Regions from separate parts of the Homo sapiens genome. Here regions 2 and 3 are each linked to region 1. The links come from fine-mapping of genetic effects on gene expression. A gene starts in region 1. Each other region holds a variant in brackets. All regions are shown on one strand. Distances are between the middles of the regions.

Evidence for each region. PIP is the estimated chance that this variant, and not a neighbour inherited with it, causes the effect.
Region 2: its variant is fine-mapped to the expression of CHI3L1 in whole blood (TOPMed, PIP above 0.99).
Region 3: its variant is fine-mapped to the expression of CHI3L1 in whole blood (TOPMed, PIP above 0.99).

Annotation. Positions count from the first base shown.
Region 1 is chr1:203,182,005-203,192,155 of GRCh38, reverse strand. It overlaps CHI3L1 (chitinase 3 like 1), which reads left to right and starts at 5,452. Exons shown (of 10, transcript NM_001276.4): 1 at 5,452-5,557; 2 at 5,811-5,840; 3 at 6,771-6,972; 4 at 7,524-7,580; 5 at 8,365-8,515; 6 at 9,304-9,425. The coding sequence starts at 5,533.
Region 2 is chr1:203,211,596-203,221,746 of GRCh38, reverse strand. It overlaps CHIT1 (chitinase 1), which reads left to right. Exons shown (of 11, transcript NM_003465.3): 8 at 1,898-2,083; 9 at 2,418-2,531; 10 at 3,882-4,008; 11 at 4,614-5,668. The coding sequence ends at 4,858. It overlaps LOC124904485 (a long non-coding RNA gene), which reads left to right and starts at 8,260. Exons shown (of 2, transcript XR_007066797.1): 1 at 8,260-8,594; 2 at 8,702-8,924. RefSeq lists enhancers at 4,147-4,902, 4,903-5,658, 5,659-6,415. The variant G/C (reference allele first, on the strand shown) is at 4,209.
Region 3 is chr1:203,117,177-203,127,327 of GRCh38, reverse strand. No RefSeq gene overlaps it. Among named protein-coding and RNA genes, the nearest start is that of ADORA1, 5.5 kb to the left of the region's middle. The variant G/A (reference allele first, on the strand shown) is at 5,480.

The DNA of each region.
Region 1 (10,151 bases):
GAGGACACCCAGCTGGTGTCCATTGCAAATGCTTGCTTGGTGATGGGGAGAGACCCACACATTTGGTGGCAGAAGTCTCCTGTGTTGATGGTGGTCATTGTGTTGAGTGAGAGAACAGAACAAGCACAGTTTATGTTTTCTCCTCTTACCCATGCTTTTACAAGTTCCTTTACTTTTTATGATCAAATATCCTATGTTATACATTTGAGGGGGAAAATTGGAACCAAATTAATATAGCTTATTCACTTCTAGATAGAATGAATGTTTATGATCATGTTATTTATATAGATCCAATGAGAATCTGTCCTTTTTCTTACCAGAAAATAATTGGATACTGACCATGCCAAAATTCCATTTAATTAGGTATGTGTTAAAGAAAAAAATTATCCAATGCCACTTGTTGAAGTATGTAAGGATGTCTTTATCCAAGATCATTATGACAGGTACAGGAACCAGGGCAATGGGGTCTTGCAGTTGGGGGGAGAGATTGGGCTCAACTCTAAATACAGCATGGGCAAGTGGAAATCAGTAGCTAAGGACCAGGGGGTCTGTAGACAGAAGTTACTAAGAGGAAACAGGAGTAAGGGGGATTCTGGCTAAACAGACTTAACAGGATTCTTGCTGCAGACAGGCCAGGGTGGTCAGACATCCCCTGGGGCATGATAAAGGACAAGGAACCTGGTCAGATGTCAAGGTATTCAGATGTTGAGGGTAGGGGGTTCTTGCTAAATTGACTTAGCAGGGCTCTTTGCTAAAACTGGATTTTACAAGGAAGTGCACAGATGGGCCTAGGAGAAGATTCAGAAGCCCGCCTGAAATTTGGCCAAGCAAAGAATTTTTGTTATATGATAAGCCACTATTAAGGAATAAAGACTACATTTTACATGTGGAAATGACACCTATGAAGTCCTCTAGAAAACTCTGGTATGGCTTTAGAACTGATGACATTGCAGCCTTAGAGGTAGTAAAATAAATAAATAAATAAATAAATAAATAAATAAATAAAACCTACATTTCCTGGCAGTCTAGGAATATTAACACATATGGGAATCTTAGAGAAAATGGTGCTGATATAATACTTCACACATAAAAGTAATTTCTTCCCAGCCCTAGGGGCTTTACAAAGCCTCCAGACAGAAGCTCACTGTAAAGCATCACTATCATGTGGCTCTGGTTTCGCTAGCCATACAAAAAGAAAGTATTTATTTCATCAACACCTCCTGTTATGTCAATAGAAATAAATTTTGGTCAAATAAAACAAAATATCAATTTGATGATGCTGCATCAGGAAGTTATTAAGCAACATATACGGTTCAACCCATGCCTCAATGGCAAGGACTTGCCCACAAGGAAGGAAAATCCGTAGACGCAAAGCCCAACTCTTCACTCTACTGGCTTCATTCATGACCAAGTACCACTGCGGGGTGGGGATGGGAATAATTTGCATCTGGAGATAAGCCAAGAATAATAGGTTATCCTGAGTGGTTTAAGACACCAAAATAATAAGCCTTGGCTATTTCCCATAAATTTGGATTCCCAGCTGGGTGTGGTTGCACACGCCATTGATCCCAACACTTTGGGAGGCTGAGGCAGGAGGATGGCTTGAGCCCAGAAGGTCGAAGCTGCAGTGAGCCCAGATCACGCCACTGCACTCCAGCCTGGGTGACAGAGTGAGACTCTGTCTCAAAAAGAAAAAAAATTCCCCGAAAAAAACAATTTCATCCCTGATTTTTGCTATGCTGATAAGTGAAGATGTGTTGTAAAAATGATGCTGATCTCCACCAAACGTGATAACCTTGGGTCATTTTTTTTTCCCCTTCAAATACTTGTTGCATTTTGCATTTGACGAGCCAGCCATTCTGAAATCTGACTCGCTTCCGCTTTTCACAAGCAACTGTTTTCTTCTCTAAGTGTTTCTGCCTCTGAGTCTTCGACAGCTTCTACTGTGCGCCAGCACCACCACCGAGCTGAGGATTTGGAGATGATTTGAATTCCTGCCTGGCAGAAGTCCACCCTCTGGAGGAAGAGACTACTTGTAAAAGAGAGAATTCTCCTCAAGCATTTGGTGGGGCATCAACACCACCTCTGTTTGCTCTGACACGCCATGCAAAATGAAGGAATCCTCAAAACCACTGTGCCCAAGGGGCCAGCCCAGGCTCCCAGGAGCTTGTTTTCTGAATGGTGGTAATGTCCACCCTCTGGCTCCTGATCCAGACTCATCTTGTGCCTCCCTCGAGCTCCCTCCTGCTAATTCCATGCCTCAACCACTCTTGAATTCTTCTGGTTCCTGAACATAACAACCTCTTCCTGCTCCAGGTTTTTGCACAATTTTTTTTGTGTGTAGGGGACGGTGGGCAAGGGGCAGACTAACACCTGCCCTTCCTTCGTAATACATTACTTGCTTTTCTTTGTTTAATGTCCATCTTCTTTGCCAGACTGTATGCTTCATGAGGACAGGGACTGCCTCTCTGTTCCCATTCACCTTTCTGTCTCTACTGTCTACCTCAGTGGAAGGCAACTACTCTAGTACACTTACTTAATAAACATTGGTTGAACACTATCAATGTACTGTGGGGCCTAGAAATGTTTGATTAGGGAAATTAAGTCAGGAAGCTTGTTTTGTGGTTTTATGGCACCTCCTGAGTCAGTTCTTCACAGGGTAACAAAAACTATTGAATGAGATGAAATTTTGAGAACATCAGGGTTTAAACTCATAAGAGTGTGAAGTTATGCACCATTTTGAGATCATTTGTTCATTTATTCAACGAGTACTTTACTGAGCATCTACTATGTCTCAAGCACTGGGGATAGATACAAAGGTGGATAAAATGACCCAGCCGTTGCCTTTACTGAGTTTATAGTCTAGTGAGAGAGGCAAACAAAACATCCACTGCCACACACAACATATAAAATTATAACTGAGTCAGGTGTTAAGGAGAGAGGTACAAAGTGCTCTGACAGCCCTATAGCGGGTTTTCTGTCACCTGGAGACTGCCTTTTCTGCAGACAAGGTGACTCCTGAGCTGCAATCTGAAGGATGAGGAAGAATAAAGCAGTCAAAGAAGAGCAGTGTTAGGCTGCAATTCTCCATCCGCAATTCTCCAACCGCAATTCTCCATGGGTTGCCTGCATTTCCTGCACAGCTTATGTGCAGAGGCACTGGCTTCTTTGTTCTAGGCAATCTTTTTAGTGATGTTTGTACAGCAAACAGCCTTGGAAGATAGAAATAGCGTCCCCCCTCCAGACCAAAAGGCAGATTTGTTTACTGTCCAGTAATAAAGATAATGTCTCCCTTATCTTGGGCTGGCCAAGGTGAGGAAGGCTTACTGCTCATCATGAAAGATTTGAGTTCCTTAAACTAGGGATTCCTCTGCTGTGATGTAACTCATTGCATTCATGGCATCTACCTGGGCTCCTCCAACACTGCCCTTGTGAGACCTGAGGGCTAAGGGGAACTGACCCTAACATGAAGTTCATGCTGCTTGCTGTACCATGGATAATAAAGTCCTTTGTCTCTGACCTAGGAGTCTCGTGTCTTCTGCCAACATCCACGAAACTGTAGTTATGTCATTAATTTGCAAGTAGCATAAAATCTCAGATCTTTCATCGTTATTTACAGGCAAGTGGATGTCATATATAAAGGCCCTGTGGCGGGAGTCAGTAGAGCAAATATAAGGATTTAAAAGAAGACATATAAGCATGAGTGGAATATAGGGAGGGTGGGGGTCATGGCCTGAGATAAGGCTGGGAGGTGGTGAGCCTATGAGACCCTTGGCCAATCCTGCTAACACAGGCCTGGGGGTATCTTGGCCATTTGTTGTTACAAAGCTGCCTTCAGGCAGAGCATGTGGAATTAATAAACTGAGCTTGAGGGAGCATAGGACAACAAGGCTTGGGCCAATCTAAGCCTATGAAATAATTTTTAACAAAGGGAGATAGTGAAAATAGGAGGTGTTTTCTTAACATCCTGTGCTCTGTGATGAAAAATTTTGCATCTGCATGCCACTTCATAATATCACTATTAGAAATTAGAAGTCCTCCTCTCAGTGCCCCAAATGAACCAGAAGAAGCTATCATTGACTGTCATTGCTGTCAATCATCTTGGGTACAAAAGGAGGCAGTCATCTTAAAAAGGAAAAGTGATGCCTCTTTAGTATTCACCGAGCGTGATTCTGGACAAGCCACTTTTTGTCCACCTCTCTTACAATGAAGGGAAGGCACTGGCTGAGTTTTAAAGGAAGAGAAAGGGAGAGAGGGAGAGAAGAGGGAGAGAGCAGAGAGACCTCACCGAGAGAGCTGCAAAACCAGCCTGGAAAAATTAGAGTATTACCTAACATTAGTGAAAAATAAAGGTACTTTCTTGAGAAGCCCTTGGACCCATTCTGCCTCTTGGAGTTCTGAACTTTTCACTCACTGCCTATTAATTAATGTTAAGCCTGCAAAGAATGGAGTTGTCCTGGATATTTGGCCAAAAAAAAAATGTATCCACAAACAGGGACGTAATCAGGCAGGGAGCCTCGTTAAGAAGTTTTGTTCTTGTCCTAGGAGTGATGAGAGATCACTGAAGGATTTAGAGAGGGGCTGTATCATCAGGCTTGGGTTCCAAAGCCTCACTGAGAGAGTTGGGGAGCTGACTGATGTCAGATGCTCGTGCAGCCGCCCCGTAGGGCCTGTATTTCCTCCATGGTGCCTCACTGCAGCACCGAGCTTGCAAAAGATCCTCTCTCTTTATGGGAATTTCAAAACAGAAGCAAAATAGCACCGGGGCTTAAAGCATTCTTGGGAATTTCCCTGTCTTTCCCTCTAAATAATCAGCATGTAAATTGCAAAAAAAAAAAAAAAAAAAAAAAAAAAGACACGGGCCCAAAAGGGAGCGCTCAGTTTCAGGCTCTTTGCTTTCCTTCCTCCCGAGGCTCTCTGGCCCTTACCCAGCCTGAAGACAGAAAGTGTGAGGGGGAGGGTAGGAAGGTAGGTCAAGCAGGGCAATGCTGAGCCTGGGAAGAAAACAACAGCCTTGTTTAGGGCACTGTGGCTTACGTAACTAAATTGTGCCCAGTTTCCACCTGGCCAGGGGCCTGGAGTGAATGCTGAAGATGCAAAGGTAGAGGCTGCCAGAAAAGCCAGGAAATTGCTGGCAAGAAAGGCCAGTGGTGGGGTGCAGGAGTGGGAGGAAGGCTGGGAAATGCGGCTGAGTCACATCTCCAGAAGCCCCCCATCATCACCCTAGTGGCTCTTCTGCTGGCAGGTGCCTCATGAAGACCTGACCCAAAGTTTTCAAAACTCTGCGGTTTCTCAACCCTCCTCTGGTAATCCATAGTACTCCCCCGCCTCCACTTGCCAGCCTCGTGATTCCTTCATTGACACATAGCTCAGTTCCCATAAAAGGGCTGGTTTGCCGCGTCGGGGAGTGGAGTGGGACAGGTATATAAAGGAAGTACAGGGCCTGGGGAAGAGGCCCTGTCTAGGTAGCTGGCACCAGGAGCCGTGGGCAAGGGAAGAGGCCACACCCTGCCCTGCTCTGCTGCAGCCAGAATGGGTGTGAAGGCGTCTCAAACAGGTATCTGGGCTAGCCAAGGTTAATCCATCAGAGTTGTGGGTTTTCAGGCCCAGACAGCCCGCAGAGCCATCTGCCTGCTGGGTGAGGGACTAAGGGAGTGGGCAGAGGGGGAGGAGAAGCAGAGCCAGGGGAGGGACTGAGGCTGCAACCAGGAGGTGGGGGTGGGGGAGGTGGGTCTCAGTTGCTTGGGGGAGGGAGCAGGGCGGAAGGGCAGGATGCACTTGCAGGGGTCTCATCCTGGATTTCTCTTCAGGCTTTGTGGTCCTGGTGCTGCTCCAGTGCTGTGAGTAATCCCTCCACCTCCACTTTTAAGTCCAGAGGCGTGGCGAGGGCACAGGGCAGGTGTGGAGGAGGTCTTAGCTCCAAGGGAACACTTTGCCAGGTTCTTCTGTGCTTCCAATGACTTCGAAATAGTCACGTTTGCTAAACTGGAGTGAGGAGTATATGGATGTTTATTTTGCTATACTCTTTGGTATATGTGAAAATTCTCAAAATAAGAAACTTTAAAAGGTCCTGGTTCAGTGAAGGCTTTGACTAACAGCCCCTGGGAGCCGCTAGTACAGTTGCCCAGTAGCTGCTTGGATGAGTGATGCCCACATTGTTTGCAGCAGGAGAAACAGAATTAGAGGCGAGGAAGGATTTCCTGGTCCATTGTGATATTGTGCCCCAGCCTGGGGGACATGCCGAGGGAGCACAGGACTGCCATTCCGGGTGGGTTACAAGTTAGAGGCACTCTCACCAGGAGGCAGAGAAAGGTGGGCCAGAGTCCCTCATGGATGAAGGACCTCACTGCAGGTCACTAAAGGTGCCAGCCTGAAAGCCAGGGCCATCTGTGACACAGGCTATCTTGGGCCTTCCCCTCCCACAAAGCCACTGCTTCCAGGAAGCCTGCTGTGCTGGCACCAAGTCCCATTTCATCCTTATTCCCCAGCTCCTACCCTTCCCCCACACAGTGCCTGTAGCGTATTCATCCCCTGCATTGGATCTTTTCTAAGCATTTTCAGAATAGGCCTTATTTTCACCAGTCAGGGAACTCCCCAGAGGCAGGGGGACCTGAACCAGCTCCTTTCATTTAAGAATTCTGACTTTGCTCACAATCTGCACCCCACTCCTCCCTACCCAACCCCACACCCCATTGGTGCTCAGCTCTGGGCTCAGCCTGAGGTCTCTTGCCGAATCCTGGCCCGGGCCCCATCCCAGACTTCTCCTTCAGGCTCTGCATACAAACTGGTCTGCTACTACACCAGCTGGTCCCAGTACCGGGAAGGCGATGGGAGCTGCTTCCCAGATGCCCTTGACCGCTTCCTCTGTACCCACATCATCTACAGCTTTGCCAATATAAGCAACGATCACATCGACACCTGGGAGTGGAATGATGTGACGCTCTACGGCATGCTCAACACACTCAAGAACAGGTTGGGCCAGGGCTGGCCAGGAGAGGAGGGACCAGCTGGGCTGGTCCCAGGGCAGGGCAACCCCACCCAGGAGGAAGGGCGAGGCCCCACCCTGCTCACCTATGTTTGGAGAGTTAGAGGGGCTTGGCTTAAATGGGTGGAGGGGATGACTGTAGGTGCTGGGCAATATTTGGGGTGATGAGAGACTGTAGACGGAAGCGCAGCTGAGCCCCTCTGGGAGAGGGGAACCCTCTCCTGCCCCTAACGTGCTCTCCAGGGAGCATGGAAAATGAGCAAGACTCTACTTTGCCATACTCTGTCTTCTCCACTGGGGAAAACAAAAATGGGCAGCAGACCTCAGAGTAACTCCCATGAAGCCTGTGACCCCTCAGAGATCCACCACTATGAATCTCTATGGGATTCCCATGATGTCCTATGGGAGGACATCAGCGGCCTAACCCAGCCTCTCACCCAAAGCAGGAAACCTTCTATGGCCTCTCAGACATGGGGCCACCCAGTGTCATGACAATGTCATTCCACTCCTGCCCTCCCCACCTCCCTGTGCTCCACAGGAACCCCAACCTGAAGACTCTCTTGTCTGTCGGAGGATGGAACTTTGGGTCTCAAAGGTAGGAGCCTCTCCCCAGGGGCAGGACGGCAGAGGATGATGGCATAGGAGTGAGGAGCTTGGGTCTCCCGCATCCACTGTATGGATGTTCCAGGGGCTCCAGACTAGATAGGTACAAGGCCTACCTGTTTGTCAAGGGCCTGCCTGATGTGTAGCAAAGAAAGCAGAGCCCAGAGAGAGAGCAGGACTTGCCAAGAGTCACACAGCAAGTTAACAGTGGATCTCCCAATTCCCTGCCAATGCTCTATTTACTACCTCACAGGCCCGAAAATATGGGACTTCTGGGGCTACCACCATTAGGGCTGGAAAGAGAGAGATGGAAACCAATGGGGACATTGAGAAGTGGGGAGACCCTGGGAGGAGTCTTTGGATTAGGTGGGGTTGGAGCAGGGCTTGAAATGGGGGTGGTTATGGCCATCGTTGGCACCCATGTGCTGGGTACTCTTTCTGTGTCCAGCACCCTGTCTCCCCATGATCCCATGTTGTCCTCACAACAGCAAGGTGAGCTGTTATATTTGTCCCCATTTTACAGATGATGAAACTGAGACTCAGGTTATAACCTTTCACAGTGGCTGGCTAGTAAGTGATAGAGCCAGACTTGGAAACCTGGAATGCCTGGCTCTAAGGCACATGCATGCCTGGAGGCGACCCCTGTCCCAATCATGCCCTCCCAGAGCTGTGTGGCCTCAGGATCCCAGCTCTGCAGGTCCTGGAAACCCCACCAGAGGCCCAAGGCACCTAGCATATCAGTGCTGAGCATGCTACAGGGCTGATTTTGGTCCTAGATTTTCCAAGATAGCCTCCAACACCCAGAGTCGCCGGACTTTCATCAAGTCAGTACCGCCATTTCTGCGCACCCATGGCTTTGATGGGCTGGACCTTGCCTGGCTCTACCCTGGACGGAGAGACAAACAGCATTTTACCACCCTAATCAAGGTGCTGGTCAGGTCAGGGACAGGGAGGGAGGTGGGCAGGCATGAGGGAATGGGGTGGGCTAGAAGCCGGCGTCAGCTGCTGTCCTCCTGAGGACAGGTAAAGAGGGACTTCAGCCTCAGGGCAGTGTCCTGGGACCCTGTGCCCTGAAGATCTCACATAGCAAGGAAGGCTTCTTGTGACCATGGTGGGAGGTGGGAATGGGGTTCTAAGAGGTGGAAGGTTGTGACTGAGCAGAGCACCCACTTATAACTACCCACTTAGTGCATTGCCCATTGCCCACCCTTCAATCCCATACTGATGCCACCCATACCCAGCATGCACTGTGTCCAGCAGCTCTCAGCTCTGCCTGGGGGCAGCCTAAGTATCTCCAGTTACCAGGGGCAGAAGGAGAGTCTAAACAAATTGTTCACAATACCAGCAGCAATCACTTTAACTTTGGGATTTCATGCACCAGCTAGAACAAAGCACAGACCGAAAGGCAAATGTCTCCCAAAGTCATCTGTGGGCCAATAGGGGTCACCCACTGTCCGATGCTCCCTCCAGGACAGGGAGTAATTGAGTGCTGATGGGTGTGCATGGGTTTGGGGAGAAGATTAGTCAGTTTTTTAGGAAAAGGATGGGTGACTTGAGGATGGGACCACTGATGAGCCACTTTATCACTTCCACTAGGCCCCAGGCAGGTTGGGGAGTACAGCAAATGGGTTGCGCAGAGACCTAGTCCGCCCTCGATGAGTCTACCTCTCATGCCACTTGGGACCCTTTCTCTCACCTGCCTGTCTCCCATCTAGGAAATGAAGGCCGAATTTATAAAGGAAGCCCAGCCAGGGAAAAAGCAGCTCCTGCTCAGCGCAGCACTGTCTGCGGGGAAGGTCACCATTGACAGCAGCTATGACATTGCCAAGATATCCCAGTGAGTCTCCTGCCCCAGGCAGCCTCCCCAGAACCTCTGCCAACACTCCTGTTTCCCCGCCACCCCCAGCCCTAGCACTCCATGTAGACTGAGGACACTGGGCTTCCAGTCCCAGTTCTTCCAAAGCCTTGATGTGTGACCTTGAGCAAGTCACTTCCCTGCCCTGTGCCTCAGTTTCCCCATCTGTCAAATGAGGCATAACAATCCTTGCCTTTCCTTTTTCACCTGGGCTGTTGGCTGAGCAGTTGAGAGAGCTGCTATGAAAGTATTTTGGAAAGGGAAGTGGAAAAAGCTATTCAAACCCTCCAGCTATTGCAGAGTATTTTCTCCACACCAGGCAGAGCAGAGTGCTGGGCCCTGGAGAGGCCACACAGCAGCCTCTTTCTAGAGTGCTGGGGAGTCCTCAAGGCTCTCTCATACACACAGGCCTCCCCCTTTCCTGTTGGCCCCACGCCTCATCCTCACCCCACCCCTCATGCCTGTGAGGAACAAGGAACAGCCAAGCAGCCTCATCTCTCCTGAGAGCAGAGCCATGGGTCTCGGGAAACCCAGGAGTAAGGAACAAAGACTCTTCAAAATGACTTCAGAGCTTTCTTTAGGATCCCAGGGAGGTGTAAACTCAGTGCTTAATTAAATGGATTCTTTAGAGGGTGGGAAACAGGTGGATGTCAACCATTTGCCCCACATACCCGTATTCATGCAATCCACCCCCAGTGGGCTCACCGG
Region 2 (10,151 bases), 30 kb before region 1:
TACTCCCAGCACCTGCAAAGGGCAGGCTTGGTTTTTAGACTAGGGTAGGTTGGGGTTTCCTAACTTTTCCTCATTGAGCAATCAAGACACTTTTAATTTTTTTTAATTTTATATATTTATTCTTAAGAGACAGAATCTTGTTCTGTCACCAAGGAGGGTATGCAGTGGCATGATCATAGCTCACTGCAGCTTCATCCTCCCAGGCTTAAGCGATCCTCCTGCCCCAGCCTCCTGAGTAACTGGGATCACTATGACCAGCTAATTTTTTTTAAGTTTGTAGAGATGGAGTCTTGCTATATTGCCCAGGATGGTCTCAAACTCCTGCCCTCAATCAATCCTCCTGGCTCAGCCTCCCAAAGTGTTGGAATTATAGGCACAAGCCAACATGCCCAGCCTAGATCCTTTTTATAAGCCCTCTATATATCTTAAAATATAGAGAGGGTTTATAAAACCCTGCAGAGAGGGCTTATAATAACTACATTATTTTTCTTTCTTAAAACAAGCAAAACCAAACAACAAAGAAAAAGCCCTAAATTAAAATGCTTTTTACTTTTGGAGAGCCCACATCTCTGTATGTCAGCTGGAGTGGGACATCTTTGATTTTCTGGCTCTTTCATGAATAAAGAGCACCTCTTTGAGCCAGTGAGCCAGGCACCCACATTTCACACTGAGCCTGGCCTCTCCATCCCTGTCTGGAAGACTGTGTGAGTTTTGGAGGAAGCTGTATCCCTGTGCTGGTGGGGAGACACAGAAAGAAATTTAGCTGAGAGGTGAGTGGGGTGGGAGTCCCTCCAGCACCCTGCTTTCCACATTGTGTACCTTGAATCCACCGAGGAATGGAGGCCATCTTATTCCTACAAAGAGGCCTTCTACTCACCACACAGTGTGCCCGGGGACAGGTTCTAACCAGATGGGTGACTTTTCCCAACTTGCACAAAAGTGCTATAACAGATCAGGAGAAGCCCCGACTTCTGCCTTCAGAAAGCACCCATCTGATCAAAGATAAGTTGTATAGATGGACAAAAAGAAATATATTTAAATAAATGTAGTGAAAGCTGTTCTTTACCTAAGTGCTAAGTGGGCTCAGAGTAACTAGACCTGACAAAACTAGGGCAGCTTCTGGGGGAAAGTGAACCATACTCTTGGCTTAAGGAATGAGGCTTCATTATTCATTAATTTATCATACTTGTACCGGGTACCTTCTCCCGTCACAGGCCTGGGGGTGTTACACCAAGTAATATATAATCAGGGGAAGGCCTTATTCAAAGGTGGGTAAGGAAGCCTTTGTTCTATCTGAGCATCAGGTGTCATTCTAGACACTGAGGATACAGAGATAAATAAAGCAGACCCAATTCCCTGCTTTTGTACTCAGGGTAAAACTAAGACAACAATCATGATAACGATGATGACCACAGCGACCCTTTATTGCGTTGTGCTGACCTTTTACATGCATTATAACCTTTAATTCTCACAATGCCCTAAGAGATGGATATTTTCCTTATTTCCATGTTACAGACAGAACACCAAGGTTCAGTGAGGTTAAATAAGCTGCTGGGTAAGGCAGGGATCTGTGTCTGCCTTGTTCACTGATGTGTCTGAAGCACCATGGACAGCGCCTGGCACACAGTGGGCCATCAGTACACATTTGTTCAGTGAATGGTTGTCTGCGTCCGAAGCCCACGCTCTCTGGTTATCATGCCATGCAGCTTCTTCACTGGGGTCACGGGTCTAAGGCAGGCTCTAAAGAAGATGGGGTAGGGCTGGAATCCTAACAAAGGCCCGTAGAGCTCCAGCTGAGGAGCCCCTGCCCTCCTAGCTCTGCCTCTGGATCCCCCAGACTTAGATAATCAGAACCAGGCTGAGGGCTGAGAAAATTAACCCTGCCCTCTTCCACCAGGATGCTGCTGTGCAACAGTGGCTGCAGAAGGGGACCCCTGCCAGCAAGCTGATCCTTGGCATGCCTACCTACGGACGCTCCTTCACACTGGCCTCCTCATCAGACACCAGAGTGGGGGCCCCAGCCACAGGGTCTGGCACTCCAGGCCCCTTCACCAAGGAAGGAGGGATGCTGGCCTACTATGAAGTAGGAAAACCCATAACCACCCTGGGTATTGTGAGGGTCAGGGGGTGCCTGAGAGAACAGAGGTTTCCTTCTCCCACCGTTTCTGAGTAAGGATGCCAATTGCAGAGAATTCTGGCCATGTAAATTCCATCTCATCCATGCCATCTTGAATTTATCCTTAAGCCCAGGTGCCTCAAGCTGAGTCCAGAATTCTAGGTCACTGCAAAGAACCTCCTGATTCTCCAGGCTTCCTCAGACAGGAATTTTCCAATCTCTAGTCTCCTCCTGGTGAGGAAGGGAAGGTGCCTGCAAGAGCCTCCCTCCTCCTCCCCAGTGCTGCCTTCTGCTCCCACAGGTCTGCTCCTGGAAGGGGGCCACCAAACAGAGAATCCAGGATCAGAAGGTGCCCTACATCTTCCGGGACAACCAGTGGGTGGGCTTTGATGATGTGGAGAGCTTCAAAACCAAGGTGAGGCCCAGCTCTGCTGGCAGAGGGGTGGTCCTAGTGAACAAGTCCTGTCAATGACATGGAATGAGGACAGTTCAGGACCTCAAGGGTGAGTCTCCTTTAAATGTCCCAACATTTCATAAATCTCCACGTGATAGTATTTTGTACCTTTACTACCTATTGACTCAGAAAAGACAAAATGACAAAAAATTGCTCTACATTTAGTAGCACTCTGGAAAGTATTTCTATTTTATTAAATACCATACAAATTCTACAGACATATGAAGAGGAGAAATACACATGGTGAGACATATAGCTTTCTTCAGCCCATTGGCAATATCTGGTGCATGTCCAAATTACAGACCTTTTGCTTTACTTATAGGACCCCCTTCTCCTGCCCAATATTGGTGCATTTACCTGGTTTCATGCCATTTTCCCCTGTGAAACTGTTAGCTCCTGAAGACGGATGCTTCACTAGTTTATCTGTACATCCCACATCAACTATCATGTGTGGCTGACAGCGGCAGCTTCTAGAGGTGGACAATTGCAGGGGGGCACGATCCTGGCTGGGGAGATGGGAGAAGGGGTCACGGTGGAAGGGTATTTCAGATAAGTCCTAAAGCATAGAAGGTGGCCATTCTTAGGGGTGAGGGAGCGGGCAACTGCACAAGCAAAGACGCGGGTGCAGAGAAAGTAAAGGCTGGACTCTGAAAACAAAGTGTAGGCCCACATAGCTGGACCCCCAAGCAGGGCAGGTAGAGGAAGGGAGCTAGCTGAAAGGGAGGCTGGGGCCAGCAAGGGATCAAGCACCATGGCCCCCTGGCAGGGTTAGAGGACAGAGAATCCCACTCTGAGGGAACACACAGTCATACCCTCAGGAAGCCTCAGGAATCTGGTGGAGGGAAGATGGCTCTCAGGGAAGACAAAGACATGAAGACAGAGAAGCAAGCCTTGATTGAGATCTTTTGGAAATCTGAGTTGTTCCCTATGGTAACTGGACTTACCTTGACCTTGACCTTGACCAGCATACAATACCCTTAAATAAAGCAGCTCAGCCCACACATGACCAAGCGGTGAAGGGTTCCCACTTAGGGAGGTGCACACAACTGACACTATTCCTCCCGACTGCACCCACCCCACCCCAGGTCATGCTTACGTTAAGACAAGGAGACTGCAAAATGACTGATGTCCAAGCAGCATGAGGACTCAGCATCCAGGCTCCCAGCCCAAGGCTGTCTCCAGAATCTACAGCCACTCACAGGCCTGAGGCTGCTGGAGCAAAAAGGGCCCTGTCCAGAAGAGGTAGCCAGGCTCTGGGGTGGCCGGGTCAGGCTTCCCCGGGCTCCTCCACTGCATCCCCTCCCTGCACAGGTCAGCTATCTGAAGCAGAAGGGACTGGGCGGGGCCATGGTCTGGGCACTGGACTTAGATGACTTTGCCGGCTTCTCCTGCAACCAGGGCCGATACCCCCTCATCCAGACGCTACGGCAGGAACTGAGTAAGTAAGGGGCCCAGGGCCAGTGGTGGAATTTGGAGGTGGGGTACAAACACAGCTCCATGCATCCAATGAACTGTAGGTCCCGGGTCCTTCTGAGGAAATGACTTTGCCCCAATACTGTAATTTCCCAAGCTTCATGTACCCGCAGGAGCTAAGGAAACTGTCAAAACAATTTTCCTTTTTGCGGTCTTTCTCTTCCT[G/C]GTTGTAGCAATGCCTGCCCAGGGTTGTTGTAACCGTGGCTTCCCTCCAGAGGGCCCCCAGACTGGGAGCAGCACCTTGTTCCTCTCTTACCTGGGAGAAAGCCTCCCCTTAGCCTGCAGCGTGGCACCCCCACCTGCCCTCAGCAGTATATGGTTGTGCTTGCAGATGGGTAAAGCCTTAACTGCCTGTCACATGTGAGGCCAGGTGTTGCCTGTGGCACTGTGCTTCAGCTGTAGGTATGGCTGTTGTCTGGCTGTTCTCTGCCTGGGGTATCTGGCTGTACTCAGCCTGTAGGGCATGTGGTGCTGGGCTGCTGCCAGCCAATGGTTGCTGCCTGTGTGCTCTGCCTGTGGGTTTGGGATCTCTTCGGGGGAGCCTTGGTTGAATCTTCACTGTCTTCCCAGGTCTTCCATACTTGCCTTCAGGCACCCCAGAGCTTGAAGTTCCAAAACCAGGTCAGCCCTCTGAACCTGAGCATGGCCCCAGCCCTGGACAAGACACGTTCTGCCAGGGCAAAGCTGATGGGCTCTATCCCAATCCTCGGGAACGGTCCAGCTTCTACAGCTGTGCAGCGGGGCGGCTGTTCCAGCAAAGCTGCCCGACAGGCCTGGTGTTCAGCAACTCCTGCAAATGCTGCACCTGGAATTGAGTCGCTAAAGCCCCTCCAGTCCCAGCTTTGAGGCTGGGCCCAGGATCACTCTACAGCCTGCCTCCTGGGTTTTCCCTGGGGGCCGCAATCTGGCTCCTGCAGGCCTTTCTGTGGTCTTCCTTTATCCAGGCTTTCTGCTCTCAGCCTTGCCTTCCTTTTTTCTGGGTCTCCTGGGCTGCCCCTTTCACTTGCAAAATAAATCTTTGGTTTGTGCCCCTCTTCCCAAAGATGTGGTGACTTAAGAGGCTCTCTAAGCACACTGTTGACTCCAAAACATCCGCAGGTCAGAGCCAGGTGGGAAGGTGGTCCGTGCAGGATGTGCCAGGCCCTGTGGCAGGTCTTGCCCCATGAGTCCATATGCCAGTGGGCAGTTTCCAGTACACAGGTGATGGCAGCCAGAGCGCGGCCCCAAGTGCAACACGTTCTTTGGTTATTGGCTCAGAAGCCTGGAAACAGGAGCTTCTGCGGACCTTCACGCACGTGTTATTCCCAAAATGCCACTAGATGGCAGCAGAGAAGAACTTTTCCCTGATTTAAGCGCTCTGCGAGCAGCCACTCAGCATTACACTAAGAATTCAGACCCCTGGTACTCAGGGGTCTTCGAGATAAATCCTGTTTGGGCCCTTTGCAGGCCCTATCTCACCTACTGCCCCCGTTCACCAGATGAAGAAGGAACAATGATTATTCTCACTTTATAGGCATTTAAACTGAAGACTGATTCTAACCAATTCTGAGTCCAGAACCAAGGCCTGAAATGGGCCAGAGAGCATGCACACGGTGTCCTGGTTAAATAAAGTCATCCCAACATTCCTGGCTGCTTTGGGCTGCACCTTGGTCATTCTGTTTGAAGAAAATCTGCACAAAGCCTAATGGTCCAGCCTGTTATTCACTCCAAGCTGGTTTCTGGTTGGGACTTGGGAAGGCAGCTGGGGACTGGGACAGGTGAGATGAGGGGGAGGCAGCTTGGCCCCCCATGTGAGTCAACCCAGCACCAGAGCGCAGGAACAGTGTCCCCGTCACTCCGGCAGCCTGCCTGTCCATGGGCATTTTGAAACCTGCTCTCCTCAGTCCAGAGCACAAGCTGCTTGAGCACGTGCTCCGCCCCCTGAGGTCTCAATTGAGGGATACACCAACCACATCCCAACGAGCTGTTAGGAGTGGAGTCCAGGTGCAGGGGTGACTTCTGGCGTGCTGCACTCCAGCTGTGTGACTTCAGGCAAAGAAGCAGAGCCTCAGTCCTCTGCTGTAGGATGGAAGAAATGTGAGGAGTCAGTGAAGTCGTGCACGCCTGCCCTATGATCAGTGCTCATTCCCTCCCTCCCTCTTCCCTTCTCAGCCCTTTCTTCAACTTCTGTGAGCTGGGTTTGTCAAGGATTTAGCAAAAACTGTAGTCTCCTTTTAGCAGAATGCGCCCTCCTACAAGCATCCAAATAACCAAAGTCCTCCCTGAGTACGCAGTCTTACACCTGCACTACTGTTACCCTCAGGAAAGCATTAGCCACAGCCTCTCTCTGGTCTTCACATCCACCCTGCTCCTCTACAAACTCATGGCCACTCCCTCAGCTAGAACCAGCATCATCTCATATCTGGACCCACCTTCTATCTGGCCTCCCTGCTTCCTGCCCACCCCCTCTTCCAGTCAGCCACCACATCGCAACCAGTTTAATCTTTCTAAAATAGAGATCTAAGCCTGTCAGTTCCCCTGCTTAAAAACTAAGCAAGGGAAGTGACAGGCTTCCCCTGCCCAAAGGAGAAAGTCCCCACCCATCAGCACAGGGTTGAGACACTTTATCAGGCCCTCGTGTCTTCTCCGGTCACTTCTCCTGCCGTCCCCACCCCAGTTCAGTTGCTGGGTACCCCTGATGTCAGCATTAACCTCAACCATCATGCCAGCTCCTCATGTGGGACTCCCACAGCCCTCTGTCACCCGGCTAGCTCAGGCCCACGCCATTTTCTGAATGAATCCTGTCTAGGACAGAAACAATGAGAGTTCTCGAAAAGCTATTTGTGTTCAGATTATCTCTTTTTGTTTGTTTTTGTTTTGTTTTGTTTTTTGTTTGTTTGTTTGGTTTTTGTTTTTTGGGTTTTGGTTTTTTTCTTTTTTTTTGAGACAGAGTCTCGCTCTGTTGCCCAGGTTGGAGTGCAGTGGCGTGATCTCGGCTTACTACAACCTCCACCTCCTGGGCTCAAGCGATTCTCCTGCTTCAGCCTCCCGAGGAGCTGGGACTACAGGCACCTGCCACCACACCAGGCTAATTTTTGTATTTTTAGTAGAGACGGGGTTGCTGTTGTTTGCTTGAGACAAGGTCTCTCTCTGTCACCCAGGCTGGAGTGCAGAGGCACGATCACAGCTCACTGCAGCCTTGACCTCCTGGGCTCAGCTGATCCTCCCACCTCAGCCTCCCAGGTAGCTGGGACTACAGGTACACACCACCATGCCCTGCTAAATTTTGTATTTTATGTAGAGGCAGGGTTTTGTCATGTTACACAGGCTGGTCTCCAACTCCTGGGCTCAAGTGATCCTCCTGCCTTGGCCTCCCAAACTGTTGGGATTACAGGTGTAAGCCATTGTTCCCAGCCAGATTGTCTCCTTTGACTCCACCTTGGCCTTGAAGCCCCATGTGGCTGGAGTCTTCCTGCTGCTGCTGAGTTTCTCAGCACACACCAAGTGTCCATGCAGGCCTGGTGTCCAGCTGGACACAGCAGGGACAAGAGCCGGGGCTTTACTTTCCTGAGGCTAACATTCTGTTGGGGGAGGCAGACAGTGAACAAACGTGCACATAAGACCTTTCCAGGCAATAATGAGTGCTGAAAGGAAACAAGATATGGCTAGAGAGTGAAGGATGGCGGTGAGGGGACTGCTGTGCACAGTGTGGTCACAGAAGGCTCAGTAGAGGCCACATTTGAGATGAGATCCCAAGTCAAAGGAAGATTTGCCCATGCACTTTTGAGATCCACAGTCCTCAGGGGTAAATCTGGGTGCAATTCTTCCCTGGCTGCCTTTGTTAACCCAGCTTATAGGACATGGTCCTGCCTTGGTCCCCTCTTCTAAATGTCCCCAAGAGGCCCTGCCTTGGCCCCATTTCTCCCCTGGCACAGGTGCCTCGTGTAGGCCCTTAGTCTGATGGCGGTGATCATGGCCCCATGGACAAGTCCTCCAGAGCAATGACTGCTCCCCTATCCTTTATGTCAACTGTCACCTCAATCCCCACTTGCCTGGTGGCCTTTTAGTTAATACCGACTGAGGTTAGGGCTCCCGGCCACTGCCCCAACCTGTGGACTGTACCTTCAGAGTCAACCTTTGGTGACTGCCCCAGCCTCTGTCATGCCCTTATGCCCAGTGCATGGTCCACGTGCATGGTCCAGTACAACATCCTCCCTCTCCTCTGCCCCAGGTTGCTGCTAGGAAAGCACCCTTGGTGTCCCATATCCAGTGTGGTGACCTGTATCCCAGGGGACCATCGGGAGTCTCCAAACAAGCCATGCCTTCCTCCAGCGCATCTCCACCTGTGCTTCACTTCTGCCTGTGCCATCCCTCCTTTCCCCACCGGGCCACTGCCAGTCACCCTGAGACAGTCAGCTCCTGGGTTACTCTTGCAGGAAACATCCTCGGGTGCCCTGGACATCAGTGACTGCCTCCCTGCCACACTAGACCACTGGGCCACCACACTGACATATGCTGCCACCGTGATCTGTGTGGATGTTAGACTCCTCCCCTAGGTTCCGAGCTCCTAAGGTCAAGCACAATGTCTTAAGTGGTCCTCTCCAATCATGACACATGTTTGAGGCTCAGTAAATATTGAACCATGTAATTTCTGACTTTTTTTCTTCTTTTACCCTCAGGTGCAGAAATCACTTAGAGGATTTCCAGACTGAAGTGCTATTTCATGACAAGAGCACTACTCTCCCAAGCCCTTCTATTGAATACCACTGACTCTTTTAATATTAGTGTCCAGCCATTAGTCCTTCCTTCAAAGAGACAGGGGAATTAACATTCGTTGCATGACCAGAGACCATACTAAGCATGTATTAGACATCCAATAAATAGTTACTGAATGAATAGTAAGTGAATTAACCTGTGTCGTTTAATCCTCACGGTACCCCTGCAAAGGACGTGTCATTTTCTGTTTCCCTTGGGTTACACAAGCAGTATGTGGCAAAGCTGCAATTAATTAGCTGATTAATTAATTATTGAGACAGAGTCACTCTGTCACCCAGGCTGGAGTGCAGTGGTGCAATCTTGGCTCACTGCAGCCTCCGTCTCCTGGGTTCAAGTGATTCTCGTCCCTCAGCCTCCCAAGTAGCTGGGATTAAAGGCGCATGTCACCACACCCAGCTAAATTTTTTGGTATTTTTAGTAGAGATGGGGTTTCACTATGTTGGCCAGGCTGGTCTCGAACTCCTGACCTCAAGTGATCTGCCCACCTCAGCTTCCCAAAGTGCTGGGATTACAGGCGTGAGCCACCACGCCTGGCCTAAAACTGCAATTTAGATGCCAGTCTAGATGAGACCCAGAGCCCAGGTTTGCTTTCTAGAACACTGCTGTCTTTCCTCCCCCAGGTTAAAATCATATGTATTTCTTTTATCTCCTTACCCTGCTATTTGGTGTCTAGACCTCAGAGGTTATGAGTATTGGGCACTTCTTCTGTGTCCAGCCATACACTAATATTCAGGTCCATTTATCTCTGCTGTCAATCCCATGGGATCACAGGTGCAGAAACCACGGTGTCCAAGTCAAGCCGGCAGTGGAGTCAGGGCCTGACCCAGGCCCACCCATGTCTTTGGTTGCTCTCCCCAGTGCACCCTCCTTCATGCCTCAGCTCTTGTCCTCTACAATATCTGATTTTATGGTTTACCTAAGTATGAAATCTTAATGATGCTTAAAACAATAAGCATTGCCTGAGCACTTGCCATGTGGCAGGAGCTGTGCTAGGGCCTAAGGGAAATGCAGAAATGAACCCTGCCCTCATGGTGTTTCCAGCTGGTGGGACTGTTGGTGGGGGGTCTCCAGGATCAGCTTAGCACCAAGGGTCAAAAGATCAACCCAGTTGGTGCAGTGGCTCACGCCTGTAATCCCAGCACTTTGGGAGGCTGAGGCGGGCAGATCACGAGGTCAGGAGTTCAAGATCAGCCTTACCAACATGGTGAAACCTTGTCTCTACTAAAAACACAAAAATTAGCTGGGCATGGTGGCAGGCACCTGTAATCCCAGCTACTCAGGAAGCTGAGGCAGGAGAATCGCTTGAAACCGGGAGGCGGAGGTTGCAGTGAGCCGAGACTGCACCACTGCACG
Region 3 (10,151 bases), 65 kb after region 1:
TCCCTGCATCTTCTCATCCCATATTGTTTTGCAGGCTCTACCCTGAGTCATTATATTCCTTTCTCATCCATCTTTCAGAATTGCCTTTTAGTCTATTAGCAATTTCTATTTTGCAGATAAGGATGCTGAGGCTCAGGGAAGTGACCTAGCTTCCCAGGATCTCCTGGCAGTGTAACCCGCTCTGCGCTCCTTTTCCTTCCTCCTTCTTCCTCTTCATAGCACAGCGCTAAGCCATAAGGCATCCAGTCCAATCCCCTCATGTTACAGATAAAGAAGCAGGCTCAGGGAAGCAAGGGACTTCCGGAGGGTCACAGGGCAAATCCTAACAGGACCAAAATAAGAATCCCAGGCTCCTGACTCTCTCCACTGGGTCCAGACCCCTCCCCTGGCCACCTTCTGCCAGTTTCGGTTTAGGCAGTCCACTGATATTAACTAATGACCAGACCCTGGACATGGATGGATGCCTCGCAGAGATCCCAACCTGAGAAATCCTTGTTTGTGGGTATTGGGCAAGGGTTCTAGGAAGGCAAAGAGAGTCAGGCTGGGGACCCCAATGTTAGCTAGCCACAACCCAACCTGGCCTCTGGGGGTACTGCCCCCCTCACTGGATCTCAGAATGCAAGGAAAAGGGTTCTGCCCAGAGGAGGGTGGGCACGTTGCTCCCATTGGGGGCTGCACTGAATCACAGTGAGGAATGATGTGGGACCCGGAACCTGGGTAGCTGGGAGGCAGGGAGGAAGGGCAGTTGAGTCTTCTGAGGAGGAGGGGGAAGCCCTCTGTGGGGAAAAATAACTTCCATTTCTGCCTTTAGGGGGAGCAAGGAATCAGTGCCTCAGACAGCAAAATTACATTCCTTCCCTAGAAGCTAGTTGGAGAAATTAGGAAGTGTAAACTCTCCTTCCTCCTCGTCCCCTTGCACTTCCCCTGCTGACTTTGTCAACACGCCCAACAGCACCTGACGTCCTGCCTACTCCCCCTGCCACCCAGACATGCAGGCCTTTGCGACCATCCCCTGCCTCTCCACCCTTTGCTTGACTTAAGCCATTTTTGGCTCAAGGCTTTCTCTCTCAGTTTACACTCAGCTTCCCAATGGTCACTCAACTAGATGTCAGAAGAGACTGTGAAGACCCAGATGGGCCCAGCTTGGGGACGGGGATGGGTGAGTGGGGTCACCCTGTCTAACTATTGACAGCATCTTCAGCTCTGGAGGGCAACTGAGCACCCACCACCACCTCCCATACACATACACTCCCACCTCCGATTCATCTTACCACAGGTTGCTGACATGTAGTGGATGCATTTGCATAATGCCTGTAGGTAATTTGTTTCTCAGTTCTGGGCAAAATAAGCCAAAATCTTCTTCCCTTATCTTCTCCATCCTTCCACCCCTGCCTGTTCCCAGCCTCAGGGATTAGACCAGCCTATTTGACAACAGAACTGGCCAAGGCAGGGTCTATTCCAGAAAGCTGCCTTGGGGGAAGCACACGGTCTCCTCAGTCCTCTGGCTTGACACGGAGGTAGGAGGGTCGGTGCTGAGATCTCCTGGGCAGCAGGGTCATTTGGTGCGGTGAAAAGAGCACTTGACCGAGAGTCAGAAGAGCTGGAAGCTGGCTTCTAGGCTCTACTCTGCCACTCACTGGCTGCGTGACCTCAAGCAGGCCACTTTTCCTCTCCTGGCCTCAGTTTACCCATCCTACACCAACAGCTGGTAAGTCCATTCCAAGGTGCGAGAGATGGGCTGAGATGGAGACCACAGAACTTGGTCCTTCCCCCTGGAAGTCTTCTAACTCCCAGCTCCCCTGTGAGGCACAGAGAGCAGGGCTGAGAGAAGGGGAAGTTTGTGATGGAGGCGAGTAGAGGAAGAGGCAAGGTCACAGATCTATAACGAGGAAAGGACAATGAGGGAGGCTGTAGGCAGAACAGATGGAGCCAAGGTGTCTGGAATGTATCCTGAGTCAAAACTCTCTGGCTTTCACAGTGTGTCCAGGACCCTTAGACAAGATGACCCTCCCCACACCAGGGTCCCCTCACACACTGCAGCCATGCAACCCTCCAAGCTTCACCTGCCTTCAAAAGCTGAGCCTTGGTTTCCCCACCTGTAACAGCAGTGTAGGAATACCCCTCGGTGTAGGATGGTTATGAGAACATAATGAGCTGGCTTTTGGAAAGCGTCCAGCACTGATATTTTATCAAAAAGGCAAGTAGGCAGCACCAGGCCAGTGAAGCGTGGGGGTGGAAAGGGAAAGAGAATGCAAAATTATGAAATCTGCCCTGCACAGCCAGGGATGCTAATGTTGGTACCAAATCCCACAGGTACCAAGTTTAGGTGCCCTCCAAGATGCCCAATGCAAAGCTTCTATTTTCCATGTGACTCAGGGGGTGAGATAATGCCACAGTAAATGTAAAGATCGCCTGTGGTCCTTTTACCGCTTGATCCTACTTCTTTTCTTCCTAAGCCCCTGTCCTGGGTTTCTCCACTGGCCCCTTGCACCTGCAGCCTCCCCACTGTGGGCAGAGGTGGGTGGGGAAGAGGGAGGGCTGAAGGGGAAGCACTCCTGGGTGAGGGGAACCTTGCTGAGCAGCCCTGCTCTTTTCTCCCTGGAACTCTCCAAATTGGGCTATACTCCTCAGGTCAGAAAGGGCTGCCCAAGGAGGCTGAAGTATCCCAGCACACCCCTCCAGAGCCCAGGAAGGAAGGCAAGGAGTACTGGCTGTTAAGGCTTGGCTCAGCCCTGTGGGGAGAGCTTGGGGATTGGAGGGGGTTTCAGAATTTTTCTCTGTCCTTTCCAGCAGGCAGAAGGATATTTTGGTCCCTGTCTTGTTTTTTCAGCATTGCTCTGGCCAGTGTGTGCACAAGGAGGAGAACTGTTGGATAAGAGCAGGCATTTGGGACAAAAAGATTTCTGGGTGTCAGGAAAGCCCTTAGCCCTTCCCCCAAGGGGCCCATAACCATGCCTGTCTGCCCCTGCAGTGACTTCCTGGAAGTTCCCTTCCTCTCCTTTTCTACCACCCTCCTTCTGCTCAGATTTGCACCCTGGGTCTCTGCCTCCTTCTCCCTCCCTCCTTCCAGCTCACTTCTTCCCAGTCAGGGCTTCTCTGTGCCAGATACTGGGCCCACGGGAAGAACACAGGCTGCGTGTTTCCCTGTGTGTTTGTGAGGCGGTGGGGAGGCATGGGGTAGGTCAAGGCCATCTAGTTCCCGTTCCTCCAGACAGCATGGAACTGTTCCTACCTCCTAAAGCAAGGTTGTCCTTCGCATTTCTTTCCTAATCTCATCATCATTCATTCATTTATTCTGTTGGGTAAACATTTCTTGAGCCCCTTTTGTGTATCAGACAGTGAGCTGAGCATCGTGGGTAGAGGCATAAAAAAGCCATAGTCTCTCCTGCAGGCTCCAGAGAGAGTTCACACTCAGGTAAGGAAGGCATGAAGGGCCCCAATACACAATCCCTCCAGTGAGAATCAGAACATGTTTCCTGGGTCTTGATACACTGAGGACCCCTTAGGGCTCCACAGAGGAGCCTCGGGACCTCCAAGGCTGGGAAGGAGGGTCAGGTCTTGGGGGCTCAGGGAGCCACCCTGTTTTAGATGAAGCAGCTCTGGTTATTTCATGTATGGGTTCCTGGTATAAGACTTTCTTTGAACATTGTGGCTCTTAAAAAAAAAACAAGTGAACATCTGAGCTTCAATCCAACCTCTCCAGATAAGGAAACTGAGACCCAGAGAAGGAATGAACTTAGCCATACCCATCCAGCAGTGAGGGGCAGGGCTTGGTACCCAGGAGGGTCCTGGAGGTGAGCATCATTTTGAGCCCTGGTCCCACCTACCCTTCAGGGAATCCCTTGAGAATCCCTCAAGCATCAGCCCTTTAATCTTAGAACTTGATGAAGTGAGGGTTCTGGGCTTTCACACCCTCGCCACCTTACAGCAGAGGGAGGCAGTGTTAGGTGGACACACCTGTATATAATTATAAAAGCCCCTCACGGGTGCACAAAAGTTTAGTGTTTATAAAAGAATTCCCTTCAAGCTCATTCTTCTTGGTATAATAAAAATACAGAAATTCTCACAGACAGTATCCCATTGAATGCTCACTATACACCAGGGAGATAGCAAAGCAGGTGTTATTAGTCCCTGGTCACAGATGAGAGAGGTTCAAGGGAAGCCACATGGCAGAGCTAACACTAGAACCTGGACCGTCCGAGGACTGAGCCAGGTTTGATGTGTGGCTTTTTGTTTGTTTGTTTGATTGTTTTGTTTTGTTTGTTTGAGACAGAGTCTCACTCTGCCACCCAAGGTGGAGTGCAGTGACGCGATCTCAGCTCACTGCAACCTCTGCCTCCTGAGTTCAAGTGATTCTCCTGCCTCAGCCTCCCAAGTAGCTGGGATTACAGGCGCCTGCCACCATGTCCAGCTAATTTTTGCATTTTTAGGAAAGAAGGGTTTTCACCATGTTGGTCAGGCTGGTCTCAAACTGCTAACCTCGTGATCTGCCCGCCTCGGCCTCCCAAAGTGCTGGGATTACAGGTGTGAGCCACTGCACCCAGCCGTGTGATGCATTTTACCCATGAAGGTGTATGTGACGCTCGGGAGGTGATTGGAACTGCTGGGCCAATTGGTCTGAAAGGGCCTCCTCAAGGAGGAGAATCTTGGGCAGCCCCATCCACCATTTGTTTCTTTGGCATTTGTGAAGGGCCTATTATGAAGACACCCCCCAAGAGCTGCAAGCATGGGGACTGGAGGCCCGGCTGTGTCAATCCCTGCTCAGAATCAGCTGGAGCTCCTGGTGGTGTGTTCCAGGGGTCCCAGACAAGGGAGGAGCATACTCCCTTGCTGGCAGGGGCTGGGAAGGATTCTGGAGAAAGCAACACATAGCCTGGGCCTTGAAGGAGGCACCGGATGCTTTGTGCTTGCAGAGATGGGCTAGTGGCCTGGAGGAGGACTTTGTGGGCAGAAAGTGAATGAGCAGCCTGAGCAAGGGGCATGGGAAACTGCCCAGTGTGTTCTGGGCAAGACCAGGGGCTAAGCAGGGGCACTGGATCCAGGCTGGGCAGCAGGGTGACAACTAGGGGCTACATTGCTGAGGTCCCCAGGGCAGACTGAGAGGACTGTAGTGGGCGATGCACCCACTGAAAGGCCTCACCCACAGAAGGCCTCAGCCCCAGTCCCAGATCTGCTCTGTAGCACTGGGTGAAGCCTGACCACTCCCCATACCTCCCTGAGCCTCAGTTCTCTTATCCATAAAAGAAGAAGAATAACATTACCTCTTTGACTTTATGTGAAAGTGCTTTTTAGATTGTAGATCACTACACAAATATACAGTCTACTCTGTTGATAATGGGAAGCTTTTGAGGATTTTTGAGGATTTTCTGAAGGACCTGAAAGATGCTATAGGAAGATCATCCAAGACGCTGTGCAGAGGGGAGGAGGAGAGGGTGAGAGCAGGCAGAACTGCCAGGAAGCAATCATGGTCAAAGATGAC[G/A]AAAAGTTAAACCTAAGAGGAAGCAGTGGGAACAGAGATGAAGATGGACAGGAAAGATGTCTCGTGGGAGGACTTCCGGGCATAGTGGCTGGGGGACTGAGGAGGCAAAGATGACTCTATTTCAAGCTGAGTTCCCAGGGAAATGCTGAGGAGGATGAGGGAGATTTGACGGACAGGCTGGTTGGGGGGATGGGGGATGGGATACGAAGTCCACTCCTGGACAGGTTGGGCTGGCTGTGCCCATGGGAGGGGTCCAGCAGCCTTCTGGAAATGGCCAAAGGGTGATCGGAGCTGGAGCTGGGTCATCGCAATGGAGGTGACAGTCAAGGCCCTGGGAGAGATGAGGCCACCCAGGAGAGGATGCAGAGAATAGGCTGTGGAGAAGCTGGGCTGTGCCCACAGTAATCAAGAGGGAGGGCAGCCAAAGGGGAGGAGCAGGCTACCAGACATTTCAGGAAGCAGGGGTGCTGAGTGGTTCGGGGCTGAGGGCTGAAGGGCAGCTATGATAGGTCTGAGGGGGATGTGGTGGATTTCATGAAAAGAAGGGTGTGGAGACCTCAAAGAAGCTTCAGGGGATGGGGGAGTAGGAGTGCCTCTCAAAGGTTGACGCTGCAGCAGGTAAGCAAGGTAGAGGCCGTGGGTGCAGATGAGTCTAGTTTGAAAGAACTTGGCAGGGATGAGAACAAAAGATGGATGGTGAGCTGCAGGAGAGAGGGGTCAAAAAGAGGTTGGTTTTAGATGGGGAGCTCTGAGCATGCTTACAGTCTGAGGGAGGGAAGCAGTGGCAAGGAAGAGATGAATCAGAGGGAAACGAAGCTGAGCACAGACCCCAAGGAGCTAAGCAGTTAATGACAGCTGGCTGGGCACAGAGCTCTGGATGTCCCCAGACCTGGAAGTATCTAGCTCTTCACCAGCTCCAAGCCCTCCCCCACTGCCACTGGGTCCTAAGGAGAGGCTCCCAGGTCTTCAACCCCAACCCAGCCCTTCCCTGAAGCCCCTCCACCCCCCCACCTGACACAAGGCCAGCAGTTGGCCAGCCATGCTGCAGCTCCATTAAAGACTCAGCCTTCTCCCAGCACCAGCTCCTCTTCATCTGACAGCCTGTGGCCCAGCCCCTACCCCTAACCCTAGCCCACGGGGCACCAGTCACAGATTTCTTGGCTTCTCTGCCCCTGTCTGCGGCCAAAGAGGTGCCTCTGGGCAATCCGCCTGCCACCCCACCACTGTCTGGGAGATCCACCATGTGACTCATAAGCGCTCATGCTGTCCTGTGCAGCCCACCCCATCCCAGCCAGCAAATGCACCCCACCTTCCTGGACTCCTCCGACAGCACCTCCAAGGGTTCAAAGGCAAGCAATCCTCTGTTTCCCCTCCCCTCACTAGGCAGAAGGGGAAATTGAGGCAGGGGAGATGATGATATCTGTTGGAGGTGAGGCAGCCTGGTATCTGACTCCCTAATCGCTCCCTTATTCCTCCCCACCCATCAAGAGGTGTCCTTGTCCCTCAAGAAAGACAAATACCCCCACTATCTTCTATATGTTCCAAAAGGGAGAAGAAGGCTGTCAAGACTAGAGAAAAGAAGGAAGGAGGGGCAGAAGTGAAGCTGCCAGACTAAATTCAGGACACCCAATTAAAAACTTTTAACAGCTTTATTGAGATACAATTTACATAATATAAAGTTCACCCATTTAAGGTGCACAATTCAGTGGTTTGAGTTACTTATGGAATTGTACAACCATCACCATCATTTAATTTTAGAACATTTTCATCACCTTTCCTCCAAAAAAACTTTGCACCCATCAGTAGTCACTTCCCAACCCTTCCCTCCACCACCCATCCCTAGCAACCACTAATTTACTTTCTGCCTCCATGGATTTGCCTATTCAGGACATTTCATATAAATGGAATCATATGATACATAGGATACATGGTCCTTTGTGACTGGCTTCTTTCACTTACCATAATGTTTTCAAGGTTCATCTGAACTGTGGCATGTATCCATACTTCATTCCTTTTTAAGGCTGAATAGTATTCCATCCTGTGGACAAGCCACATTTTGTTTATCCGTTCTTCAGTTGATGGACATTTAGCTTGTTTCCACTTTTAGGTTATTGTGAATAATGCTGCTATGAACATTCGTGTACATGTTTTTTTATTTTATTTTTTTTTTGAGACGAAGTTTCACTCTTGTTGCCTAGGCTAGAGTGCAATGGTGTGATCTCGGCTCACTGCAACCTCCGCCTCCCAGGTTCAAGCGATTCTCCTGCCTGAGCCTCCTGAGTAGCTGGGATTACAGGTGTGAGCCACCACACCTGGCTAATTTTTTGTATTTCTAGTAGAGACGGGGTTTCACGATGTTGGCCAGCCTGGCCTCAAACTCCTGACCTCAGGTGATCCACCCACCTCAGCCTTCCAAAGTGCTGGGATTACAGGCGTGAGCCACCACACCTGGCCCACGTACAGGTTTTTGTGTGAGGATGTGTTTTCATTTTTCTAGGGTAGATACAGACAGAAGAAAAGGCAGAACACATGTCTGGCCCTTTCTCACATTTATCCCCTGTATCATCACCCCACCTGGGTGGGAAGCTATTATGCTCCCCTTTGCCAGATTAAAACACTGAGGCTCAAGGAGAGGCCTGAAACCACTGAGTGCTGGAGCTGAAACGTGAGCTCAGGCCTCCTGATTTCCACTCCAAGGTTCTTTCCAGTTCATCACAATAGCCCACTCAGAGAGTCTGCAGCCCACTGAGGGAACGAAACAGAAGGAACTGAAAAGCAACATCTTCCACGTGAACCATCACCTCATCCTTCTGAAGTCCTAACTAGGTGCTTCATGGACCATGTCCTGGGGTGTAAGGGCTGAGACTGAAGCCAGAGGCTTCATGGAAGGAACGAGTTTTTGCTCCACTCAGTAAAAAGCTAACTGGGATGAAATGGCCCCTGTCCTCAGCCAGTATCCCTGGGTCCCCTGAGAGCCTGCAGGAGAGCCCACCATGTACACATTCTCATAGTTATTTCTCTGAGTGAAGCCCCTCCCAGCAGCGATGGAAGCCAGGTGTGGAAACACTAGGCATTCACTCATTATACTCAGGAATCAGAACTGGTCACAGAGGCTTGGCCACTGATTCCGGCTTCAGCCCATTCCCTCAGCTCCAGTCTTATCCTGGCCCCAACTCCCTGATGTTAAGCAGAACTCAAAGTGCTAGTCTAGAATCATTCCCTTCAGATCTGCCTCACCCCCTCTGCCCTGAACCCTGTCACCAGCGAGCACTGGGCATGGAAGGAAGGGAATTTGCGCTAAGTGCACGTTCCTCAGGTCGGGATAAAGAGGTAGTGGATGGCCTGGGCTCCCTGGTCCTCTGTGGGCTCATCCCAAAGTCCTACCTTCCACACCAGAAAAGCAAACAGCAGCTTGCTAGAGGGGTCCACTCTACAGTTAAAAGCCACTCACTCCATCTGGCTCGTCAAGTGGGGTGGGAGACACAGAGGAGCCCTTCACTTACTGAGCTTTTCTATTTCAATCACTATCCCCGGCCCGAGTTGGACAGACTTCATCCAGGGCTTAAAATAGCTCCCGGGGCATAGAGCTCAAGAAACATTGACTGAATGTTCAATGTTCAAAATAATACACTTCAAGAGTACAAGAAGGAAGTCTCACAACGCTTTATGGTTTAGAATTATTTAACTATCATAGCATTGCCGGTGAAATAAGTATAATCATTTTCCCATTTCTCAGAGGAGGAAACTGAGGCTGGGGGGAGGGAGGTGGGGAAGGTGGATCGGCTGAGCAGCGGGATCTAGAGCCAGAAGCAGCCGCCCAGCTCAGGGCTGTTGTCCGGGGCTCGGGGTCCCCCTGCTGGCCTAACGGAAGCCTGGGCGTGGGCGAGGAGCTGGGCAGGGCCAGACCCCAGTCCCGCAGCCTGAGTTCCCTGCTCCGCCGCGCTAGGTGCTGGGTTCCCGCGGAAGGGAGAAGAAGGAGGAGCCATAGCTGGGCTCAGCATTATAGCGCCTGGCGGAGCACTGCGCAAGGCTTCAGCTGAGATGCTTCACCCGACATCATGGGCCAGAACAGACGAAACAGGCAGCGCCTCAGCTCCCCACCTGCCCGAGCCTCTCCTGAGCTCACCTGCAGAAAGGCCAAAAGGGACGGCGCCTAAGAAGGCCCAGCAGACCCGCTCCCTTGGAGGGAAGAGACAGATTCGCTCTCCTGACGTCCAGTCCAAAGTGCTTTGTTCCCATAGCATTGTCTCCTCCCGTTTCCAGGCAAATCTAACCCAGCCCCAAGAGAACACTTCCCTCCTCTCTGGATCTTGTTGCCCAGGCTGGAATGCAATGGCGTGGTCTTGGCTCACTGCAACCTTCGCCTCCCGGGTTCAAGCGATTCTCCTGCCTCAGCCTCCCAAATAACTGGTATTACAGGTGCCTGCCACCACGCCTAGCTAATGTTCTATTTTTGGTAGAGACGGGGTTTCACCACGTTGGCCAGGCTGGTCTTGAACTCCTGACCTAAGGTGATCCACCCGCCTCGGCCTCCCAAAGTGCTGGGGTTACAGGCGTGAGTCACCGGGCCCGGGCTTCCAGCTCCTTTACTTTCACCCCACTTCATCTGGCTGCTCTACAATTCCCACAGTGAGGAGGGCTAACTTAGACCCATCCACCACGTCCAGAAGTT